Homo sapiens: one gene and its partners. The protein of the gene in region 1 purifies or fractionates together with the protein of each later gene. This does not show direct contact. Each region holds a gene or a part of one and is shown in the gene's direction. Other genes may lie near its edges.

What was found.
Region 2: the proteins of OR52B2 (region 1) and C1orf198 purify together in Homo sapiens (affinity purification with mass spectrometry; one large-scale study listed by BioGRID and IntAct). This does not show direct contact.
Region 3: the proteins of OR52B2 (region 1) and ZNF627 purify together in Homo sapiens (affinity purification with mass spectrometry; one large-scale study listed by BioGRID and IntAct). This does not show direct contact.

Annotation. Positions count from the first base shown.
Region 1 is NC_000011.10:6,168,732-6,171,857, reverse strand, and holds OR52B2 (olfactory receptor 52B2), read left to right. Parts: upstream 1-1,531; coding exon 1,532-2,503; downstream 2,504-3,126. UniProt on the Homo sapiens protein: Odorant receptor.
Region 2 is NC_000001.11:230,840,969-230,844,622, reverse strand, and holds part of C1orf198 (uncharacterized protein C1orf198), read left to right. Parts: intron 1-726; coding exon 727-1,269; intron 1,270-3,654.
Region 3 is NC_000019.10:11,603,883-11,607,536, forward strand, and holds part of ZNF627 (zinc finger protein 627), read left to right. Parts: intron 1-327; exon of another isoform or gene 328-482; intron 483-3,654. UniProt on the Homo sapiens protein: May be involved in transcriptional regulation.

The DNA of each region.
Region 1 (3,126 bases):
AGGCAGGTCTTGAATACCTGGCCTCAAGCGATCCTCCCATCTTGGCCTCCCAAACTTCTGGGATTATAGGCATGAGACACTGTGCCTGGCCCAAATATTTAAAATATACTGACTTGAATGCTGTCAGATTATTAGCCTGCCTGCGGCCTTTACTTGTCTGGATCTGGCTCTATTCCCTTCCTTGTACCCATCTGGAGTCCCATTGCTCCCTCCCCACAGCCCACTGTGCTCTGAGAAAGTTCATTTGCATAGAGGCAGAGGGATGGACTAATAAACTGAGGATTTGATTCCTTTGCATCTCTTCTTTGGGGCCCTCTGAATACCATTATCAGAAGATCAGTCTAGTGTTTATTTGGTACCTTTATAGTTCTGATTCTCTCTTTACTGTCTCTGTGGTCCCTTTTCTTCATGTTCCCTTCTAGATTCTTAATCATACACTCTTTCCCTAGTCCTAATAGCTGACAGATAGTTCAGAACTTCAGAATGAAACAAATATTACCTGAGTGGCAGGCAAGCCAAGAAGGGCTCTATACTTAATCCTTCTTGGCAGCAGGGAAACATGGTTCCTTCTGAGCGTTGGGGAACAGTGGGGTGGGAAGAAGGGCAGTATTAGTGGAGTCAGCAGAGTTTACAGGTGGGCAATAGATTGATTTCTTTTGCTCAGAATCGTTTTCCTGGGGGGCTTCTACAGATAAGGAAGCCCAGACATAACCAAGAGGCTCCTGTATAGAAATATTTGAGGAGGAGCATGAGAAGTCCATGAGGAGCTGGTGATGAAAATTGCCTGTCTCAGTTTCATTGGCTGCCCCATTGCTCACTGCATTAGGGAAGATATGAATCTGGATCAGAGTGGAGAAATGTACCCCTCTAGGCTTCCTCTGGATTCCCACTTGATACTCTACTCCCTTGCACAAGGGGCCAGAGGTGCAAGTGTCCTGTGAAATGTTCAAGGCAATAGCCAGATAAACTTAATAGGATTAAATATAACCCAGTTAAAATATAGTTTAGTTAATAGTTTTTTAGGAAGGAGATATATTGCTATGAACACAGACCATTACAAAGTGGTATGTCTTGAGGACTTATTTTAAGGTTAAAATTTTGTTAAACAGAAGTAGAAGGGGAGGGAAATTAAAGGTAAATGCAGAACAAAATCTTGGGGAAAGGGACAAGTACAACACAGGTAGGTGGAAAATGCTGCTTGTGTGGAAATAGTAGAATGAGGTCAGAAAGGGAGAGTGAGGCCAAACTCTGGGGGCAGGGTGGTTGCAGGAAGGTGCTGCCACTTCTGTTCATACTTGAAGCATTATTGCCACAGAAGCTCTATCTGCAAAGGAAGCACTATGGGCCAGAAGCCATTCCTATACCAAGTGAACATTCTCTGGGAGTACTTGCTGCTGGAGAGTCCAGCAATTTAGAAATCCATGCTGTCTTTTATGATATTTATACATATTCGGGAGTGCTTTCTGTTTCTATCACTTTCAGTAGACTCATCAGCTTCTAAGTCATTATAGAGAGGACCATAAAGTGCATCATGAGTCACACCAATGTTACCATCTTCCATCCTGCAGTTTTTGTCCTTCCTGGCATCCCTGGGTTGGAGGCTTATCACATTTGGCTGTCAATACCTCTTTGCCTCATTTACATCACTGCAGTCCTGGGAAACAGCATCCTGATAGTGGTTATTGTCATGGAACGTAACCTTCATGTGCCCATGTATTTCTTCCTCTCAATGCTGGCCGTCATGGACATCCTGCTGTCTACCACCACTGTGCCCAAGGCCCTAGCCATCTTTTGGCTTCAAGCACATAACATTGCTTTTGATGCCTGTGTCACCCAAGGCTTCTTTGTCCATATGATGTTTGTGGGGGAGTCAGCTATCCTGTTAGCCATGGCCTTTGATCGCTTTGTGGCCATTTGTGCCCCACTGAGATATACAACAGTGCTAACATGGCCTGTTGTGGGGAGGATTGCTCTGGCCGTCATCACCCGAAGCTTCTGCATCATCTTCCCAGTCATATTCTTGCTGAAGCGGCTGCCCTTCTGCCTAACCAACATTGTTCCTCACTCCTACTGTGAGCATATTGGAGTGGCTCGTTTAGCCTGTGCTGACATCACTGTTAACATTTGGTATGGCTTCTCAGTGCCCATTGTCATGGTCATCTTGGATGTTATCCTCATCGCTGTGTCTTACTCACTGATCCTCCGAGCAGTGTTTCGTTTGCCCTCCCAGGATGCTCGGCACAAGGCCCTCAGCACTTGTGGCTCCCACCTCTGTGTCATCCTTATGTTTTATGTTCCATCCTTCTTTACCTTATTGACCCATCATTTTGGGCGTAATATTCCTCAACATGTCCATATCTTGCTGGCCAATCTTTATGTGGCAGTGCCACCAATGCTGAACCCCATTGTCTATGGTGTGAAGACTAAGCAGATACGTGAGGGTGTAGCCCACCGGTTCTTTGACATCAAGACTTGGTGCTGTACCTCCCCTCTGGGCTCATGAATCTTCATGTCCAGCTCCTTCAAGGAAGCTAGATGTGAAATACAGAGATTTCCTGGACTGAGAAGGCTTTTCTTCCTCTTCTTTCTATTTCATCTTCCGCCCCCAACTTTTCTTTCTTTTCTCATAATTCTTCCTCCTTCTCTTGTTTGTTTTCTCTAACCTCTTTACATATTCCTCCCTACAACCCAGAAATAATAACTAAGTGTACATGCCTCTGATATGAGGCTTTGGTACCCTCAGTAGACTAGATAGACGCCAGAAGCGCAGGGATCTGAACACCACATGAAATGAGGTTATAAAGAAGTGGATAAAAATAATTTTATATTTACCATTTTAAGGGGTTTTAATTTTTTAAAAAAATCCCAAATGTGCATTGATTCTTTGTACAGAATCAAGTGGCCTGCCACCCACTACCACAATGGCAGGTGAGTTTGAGGAACAGCCATGCATGACCTTTGGTCATCTGGAAAAACTTCCTTTCCTTCAAATTTTAGTTCAAGAAAAGTTGAGTCTTTTCTAATTTCTCCAGGCAAGCCAAGGGTCCTATGTTTGCATGTCTAGTGTATCTTGTACAAATCTCCAAATGTGCATAATAAATTGTAATGTAATGAGTTGTTCATTTA
Region 2 (3,654 bases), on another chromosome or scaffold:
CTGTTTACCAGGCAGAGAGCCCTTACTCATCGGTAATACTCAGATATCTTGAGCTGCATGTAGCATAGTGCATGAGGGAGTGTATCAGTGTGTTCTTGTGTTGTTTTAAAGAAATACCTGAGACTGGGTAATTTATAAAGAGAGGAGGTTTAATTGGCTCACGGTTCTGCGGGCTGCACAGGAAACATGGCATCGGCATCTGCTTGGCTTCTGGGGAGGCCTCAGGGGGCTGTGGCTCATGGTGGAAGGCGGAGGAGAGCAGGTATCTCACATGGCAGAGCAGGAGCAAGAGGGAGAGAGTCAGGGGGAGGTGCCACACCCTTTTAAACGACCAGATCTCATGAGGACTCACTATCATGAAGACAGCACCAAGCCATGAAGTCACCATCATGAAGACAACATCCGCCCCTGTGATCCAGACACCTCCCACGAGGCCTCACCTCCAGCACTGGGGATTACAGTTCGACATGAGATTTGGGAGGGGACCACCACCCACACTCTGTCACCCGGCCTTGGCATTTAAGCTTCTGATGCATTTCAGGTGTGCGATGGGAGTCCTGACCATACCCACCACTCAGGACAGACAGTTCCAGCACATGGGCAACAACTCGTGTGTGGCTGGTGTGCGTCCTTATGCTGAGGAGGGGTGCGTGAGCTGGCACACTTGTGACGGTCGATTCTCAGGATCTCTTTCTTTTTTCTGTCCTTTCTCATGTCCCACCCTAGAGTCAGATGGAGTTCAGTATCTCCGCCCTATCCATCCAGGAGCCGAGCAACGGCACCGCCGCCAGCGAGCCCAGACCACTGTCCAAAGCTTCCCAGGGCTCCCAGGCCCTCAAGTCCTCCCAAGGCAGCAGGTCCTCCAGCCTGGACGCCCTGGGCCCCACCAGGAAGGAGGAGGAAGCGTCATTCTGGAAGATCAATGCTGAGCGGTCCCGAGGGGAGGGGCCTGAGGCCGAGTTCCAGTCGCTGACCCCTAGCCAGATCAAGTCCATGGAGAAGGGGGAAAAGGTCTTGCCTCCCTGCTACCGGCAGGAACCTGCCCCGAAGGACAGGGAGGCCAAGGTGGAAAGGCCCAGCACCCTCCGTCAGGAGCAGCGTCCTCTTCCCAACGTGAGCACCGAACGTGAGAGACCCCAGCCTGTCCAGGCCTTCAGCAGTGCACTGCACGAGGCTGCCCCCTCCCAGCTCGAGGGGAAGCTGCCATCTCCTGATGTCAGGCAGGACGATGGGGAAGACACCCTGTTCTCGGAACCCAAGTTTGCACAGGTGAGTGGCCTTTACCAGCGCGTCCTCAGATGGGATGGTGCCTTATTCCACGGGAACCGAGAGGGTCCCCCACAAAGCAGGCAGGCCACAGGTGCCCATGCTCTTTTTCTTCTCCTTCCCCTGCCTCTTCCTCAGAGGATGCCTAGGCTCAGGGTGCTGAGCCACCAACAAATATGCAACAAGACAAGTTTTGCGAGTCCATCTGGGTGCCCTAATTTGTTTACCAGTCAGGGTTCCGTGGCCCACTGCGCTTTCCCCAGTGCGCGGGCTGCTATCAGAAGAGGCCCCTGGAAGGCGCTGCGCCCAGGGCTGTCACAGCTCAAAGCTGTGTTGGGCCTTCTTTTTGGGAGCTGTCCATAGAGGCAATGGTCTGTTCTTTAGGACTGGTCTGGATTTGGGCCAGGGGAGCTGCCTGTTGGCAAAGCAGGCAGGCACACTTGAGAGGCCTCACTGGGTCTTGCCCCTCTGTGGGCCTCGCTGGGCTCCTGGCTGCCTTGCTGAGGAGTGAGCCCAGGATGCAGTTGCCTCCATGGTAGCCTCACCCATCCTCCTCTGGCCCTTGAGACTCCTTGGTTCTTGTGGGTCACTCTTTTTTTTTTTAATTTTTATTTTTTAAATTTTTTATTTCCATAGGTTTTGGGTGGTATTTGGTGACATAAGTTCTTTAGTGGTGATGTGTGAGATTTTGGTGCACCCATCACCCGAGCAGTGGACACTGAACCCAATTTGTAGTTTTTTATCCCTCACCCACCTCCCACTCTTTCCCCGAGTCCCCAAAGTCCATTGTGTCATTCTTATGCCTTTGCATCCTCATAGCTTAGCTCCCACTTATGAGTGAGAACATATGATGTTTGATTTTCCATTCCTGAGTTACTTCACTTAGAATAATAGTCTCCAATTACATCCAGGTCGCTGCAGATGCCATTAATTCATTCCTTTTTTGGCTGAGTAGTATTCCATCGTATATATATACCACAGTTTCTTTATCCACTCATTGATTGGTGGGCATTTGGGCTGGTTCCATATACTGAATTTTAAAAGTTTTTATTATGGTAAAATATACAAACATTTACCATTTTAACCATTTTACAGTATAAATTTGGTGGCATTTCAGTACATTCTCAATGCTGTGTAACCATCACTACCATCCATCTCCAGAACTCCTTTCATCCTGCAGAACTAAAGCTCTGGACCCGTTCAACACTAACTTCTCATTCATCCCTCCCCGCAAGCTCCTGGCAACCACCATTCCACTTTCTGTGTCTGTGAATTTGACTCCTCTAGGTACCTCATATAAGTAGCACCATATAGTATTTACCCTTTTGTGACTGACTTACTTTACTTAATGTGACGTCTTCAAGGCTCATTCATGTTGTAGCAAGTGTAGAATTGCCTTCTAAGGCTAATATTCCATCGTGTGGTTAGACCACATTTTGTGTATCCACTCATCCATCGACAGACACTTGGGTTGCTTCCACCTTCTGGCTATTGTTGTCTGTTAGGAATAGTGCTGCTGTGAACGTGTATGTACAAATAAGTCTTCCAGCCCCTGCTTTCCCTTCTCCTGGGTGCATACCCAGATGTAGAATTGCTGGATCACATGGTGGTTCTATTTCTACTTTTTTGAAGAACCTGCATACTGTTCGCCACAGCAGCTGCGTCATTTTACATTCCCATCAATGTGGGTTCGCGTTTCTCCACTCCCTTGCAACACTTGTTATTTTCTGTGTCTTTGCTGGTGCCATGCGAAGGGGTATGAGGTGGTGTCTCACCGTGGTTTAGACTTGCCTGTCCATGATCGTGAATGATGTTGAGCCTCATTTCATGTGCTTATTGGCCATCTGTGTATCTTCTTTGGAGAAATGTCCAATGGTCCCTTGCCCATTTTTAAATTTTTGGTTATTTTGTTGTTGAGTTGAGATCATCACTGATAACATTGAATGTCCCCCAGAGCAGGTTTCCAGTACTTCCACACCTCCCTCGGCAGATGGCTGCACGTGCTGTCCTCCCGAGGAGGGAGGATCCAGCGGTGCTAGTACCTTCTGCCCACCTCGGCTCCACATCAGTGCTCTAGCCTGTCCTCTTCGTGTTTCTGCACCTTCTTAAGCTAGTGCTTTCAGCCCTCTTGTTTCCTGCCTTCTCCGGTACCTGCCCATCTCTCCGTTCTGTTTTCTGTCTCACATCCTCCTGCCCATCAGCTCCTCCTTACAGACAGGCTCAGTTCCCTGCCTCCCTAACCAGCACTCTTTCTCTGAGACTCGGCACTGAGGGCTTCCTCTGAAAGAAGTATTTCCATAAAATAGGTGATAGTCCCCACTCTAAAGAGAAGCAGGAACGTGTTTCTGTGTGGGCAGTGGAGAGTAGGAGACAGCACATGAAATTCCT
Region 3 (3,654 bases), on another chromosome or scaffold:
CTGCAGGCTAGACCTCCAGGGCTCAAGTGATCCTGCCGCCTCAGCCTCCCAAGTAGCTGGGACCACAGGTGTGCACCACCACATCTGGCTAATTTTTTTTTTTTTTGGTAGATGGGGGTCTCACTATGTTGTCCAGGCTGATCTCTAACTCCTGGCTCAAGTGATTCTCCCATCCTGGCCTCCCAAAGTACGTAAATATGATATCATATATATCATATAATTGATGAACCAATATATCATATATGATGATGATCAGAATTGGTGAGCCAATATGTTACTAACTAAAGTTTACACTTCATCAAAATTGGTAATTTTTGTTCTTCAAAGGACACCAAGAACTTGAAAAGATAATTCACCAAGTGGAAGAACGACTTGCAAATCCTGTGTCTGGTGGGGCATCTTATCCAGAAGCAGCCTGAGTCTCAGTCCCCTCCATCACACTCCATCAGGGTGGGGGCTGAATTGGCAGCCAGGACTCCCAGGTATCCTGTCCCATCACTGTAGGAGGCAGTCTACCTCCTGGACCTCTCTCTGGGCAGTTGTGCACCTGCAATCCTGGATCTCACCCAGATCATGGGGTGACAACAGGGAGTGGCCATCCAGAGAGAAATCTGAGCCTGGTGTTTTGGGTTTGTGGGTGGGAGGTACTCTCAGGACACCCTCCCCCTCCATGGATTCAGACTTGGGTGGGCCCAGCAGAATGGCATGTGTGGTTCCCAGCTCCTTCATCCCCAGTGGGAGGGAGCCTGTCATCCCCTATGCATTTCAGATAAATGAACCAGGGTCTCAAGTTTACAGCCTTGTTCCCTGTTAAAGAGAGATTGCACTGGAAACTTGTTAAGAATGTCAAGGAAAAGTTTATTAAGCACAATTGCAGTGAGTCATGACAGCTGTAATAGGGGAGGGAGATTGAATTCAGCCTTGAATGCAGCAGGAATATTATTGGATTTATAGCCAATGTACAAGGTGAGGGAGAGAATGGAACTTGGTTGGGTCTCATAGGTGGGAGAAAAAGAACTTGATTGGATATTAAGGTAGGAGGAGTCTCTATAAACTACCTTAGATGGATTCTTGCTGAAACTGACTTCTGCAGGCCAGTGCCAAGCCCTAGTCAAAAAGAGGGCTCTGAGGAGCTTGACTCAAGTTTGGTGAAGGAAGGAGTACTTGAGACCTCTTCAGCCTAGTTTTTCTTTCTTTCTTTTTTTTTTTTTTTTTTTTTGAGATGGAGTCTTGCTCTGTCACCCAGGCTGGAGTGCAGTGGTGCGATCATGGCTCACTGCAACCTCTGCCTCCCAGGTTCAAGCAATTCTCTGCCTCAGCCTCCCAAGTAGCTGGGGTTACAGGTGCCCACCACCAGGCCTGACTAATTTTTTTTTGTATTTTTAGTAGAGACAAGGTTTCACCATCTTGGCCAGGGTGGTCTTGAACTCCTGACCTCATGAGCCACCGTGCCCAGCCTCTTCAGCCTAGTTTTTCCCAGGGCTCTGTATTAGTCTGTTTTCATGCTGCTAATAAAGACATACCCAAGACTGGGTAATTTATAAAGGAAAGAGATTTCATTGACAGGTCAGTATGGCTGGGGAGGCCTCAGGAAACTTACAAGTATGGTGGAAGGGAAGCAAACATGTCCTTCTTCACATGGCAGCAGCAAGGAGAAGTGCAGACTAAAGGTGGGGGAAAGGTGGGGGAAGCCCATTATAAAACCAGATCTCATGAGAACTCACTATTATGAGAACAACATGGAGGTAACCACCCCAATGATTAAATTATCTCCCACTTGCTCTCTCCCATGACATTCAGGGATTATGGGAACTACAAGAGGAGATTTGGGTGGGGACACAGCCAAACCATATCATTCCACCCCCAGCCCCTCCCAAATCTCATATCCTCACATTTTAAAACAATCATGCCCTCCCAACAGTCCCCCAAAGTCTTAAATCATTCCAGCATTAACTCAAAAGTACAAGTCCAAACTCATCTGAGACAAGGCAAGTCCCTTCTGCCTATGAGCCTGTAAAATCAAAAACAAGTTAGCTACTTCCTAGATACAGTCATTGGGTAAATATACCCATTCCAAATGGGAGAAATTGGCCAAAACAAAGGGGCTAGAGGCCCTATGCAAGTCCCAAATCCAGTAGGGCAGTAATTAAATCTTAAAGCTTTGACATAATCTCCTTGGCCAGGCGCGGTGGCTCACACCTGTAATCCCAGCACTTTGGGAGGCCGAGGCAAGCGGATCATGAGGTCAGGAGATCAAGACCATCCTGGCTAACATGGTGAAACCCTGTCTGTATTAAAAATACAAAAAATTAGGCATGGTGGCACGCGCCTGTAATCCCAGCTACTCGGGAGGCTGAGGCAGGAGAATTGCTTGATCCCAGAAGGCGGAGGTTCCAGTGAGCCGAGATCATGCCACTGCACTCCAGTCTGGGTGATAGAGCCAGACTCTGTCTCAAAAAAAAAAAAGAAAGAAAAAAAGAATCTCCTTTGACTCCACGTCTCACATCCAGGTCATGCTGATGCAAGAGGTGGGCTCCCTCAACCTTGGGCACCTCTGCCCCTGTGGCTTTGCAAGGTACAGCCCCCACTCCTGGCTGCTTTCACAGCTGGCACTGAGTGTCTGTGGCTTTTCCAGGTGCGTGGTGCAAACTGTCAGTGGATTGACCATTCTGGGGTTCTTGAGGACGGATGGTGGCCCTCTCCTCACAGCTCTACTAGGCAGTGCCACAGTGGGGACTCTCTGTGGGGGCTCCAGTTCCCACATTTCTCTTCTGCGCTGCCCTAGCAGAGGTTCTCCATGAGGGCTCCGCCCCTGTAGCACACCTCTGCCTGGACACCCAGGCGTTTTTGTACATCTTCTGAAATCTCGGCAGAGGTTCCCAAACCTCAATTCTTGTCTTCTGTGCACCCACAGGACCAACACCACATGGCAGCTGCTGTGGCTTGGGGCTTGCACCCTCCGAAGCCATGACCCGAATTGTACCTTGCCTCCTTTTAGCAATGGCTGGAGTGGCTGGGCACAGGGAACCAAGTCCCTAGGGTGCATACAGCAAGGGGCCCTGGACCAGGCCCAGGAAACCAACCATTTTTTCCTTTTAGGATTCTAGGCCTGTGATGGGAGGGGCTGCCATGAAGGTCTGTGATGTGTCCTGGAGACATTTTCTCCATTGTCTTGGTGATTAACATTTGGCTTCTCGTTACTCACAAATTTCTGTAGCTGGTTTGAATTTCTCCCCAGAAAATGGGTTTTTCTTTTCTTTTCTTTTTTTTTGAGACAGAGTTTCACTCTTGTTGCCCAGGCTGGAGTGCAATGGCGCAATCTTGGCTCACTACAACCTCCACCTCCCAGGATCAAGCGATTCTCCTGCCTCAGCCTCCCGAGTAGCTGGGATTACAGGCATGTGCCACCACGGCCAGCTAATTCTATATATTTAGTAGAGAAGGGGTTTCTCTATGTTGCTCAGGCTGCTCTCAAACTCCTGACCTCAGGTTATCCGCCTGCCTCAGCCTCCCAAGGTGCTGGATTACAGGCATGAGCCACCACGCCTGGCTGGGTTTTTTTTTCTGTTCCATTGTCAGGCTGCAATTTTTCCAAACTTTAATGTTCTGTCACCTCTTGAATGCTTTGCCGCTTAGCAGTTTCTTCCACCAGAT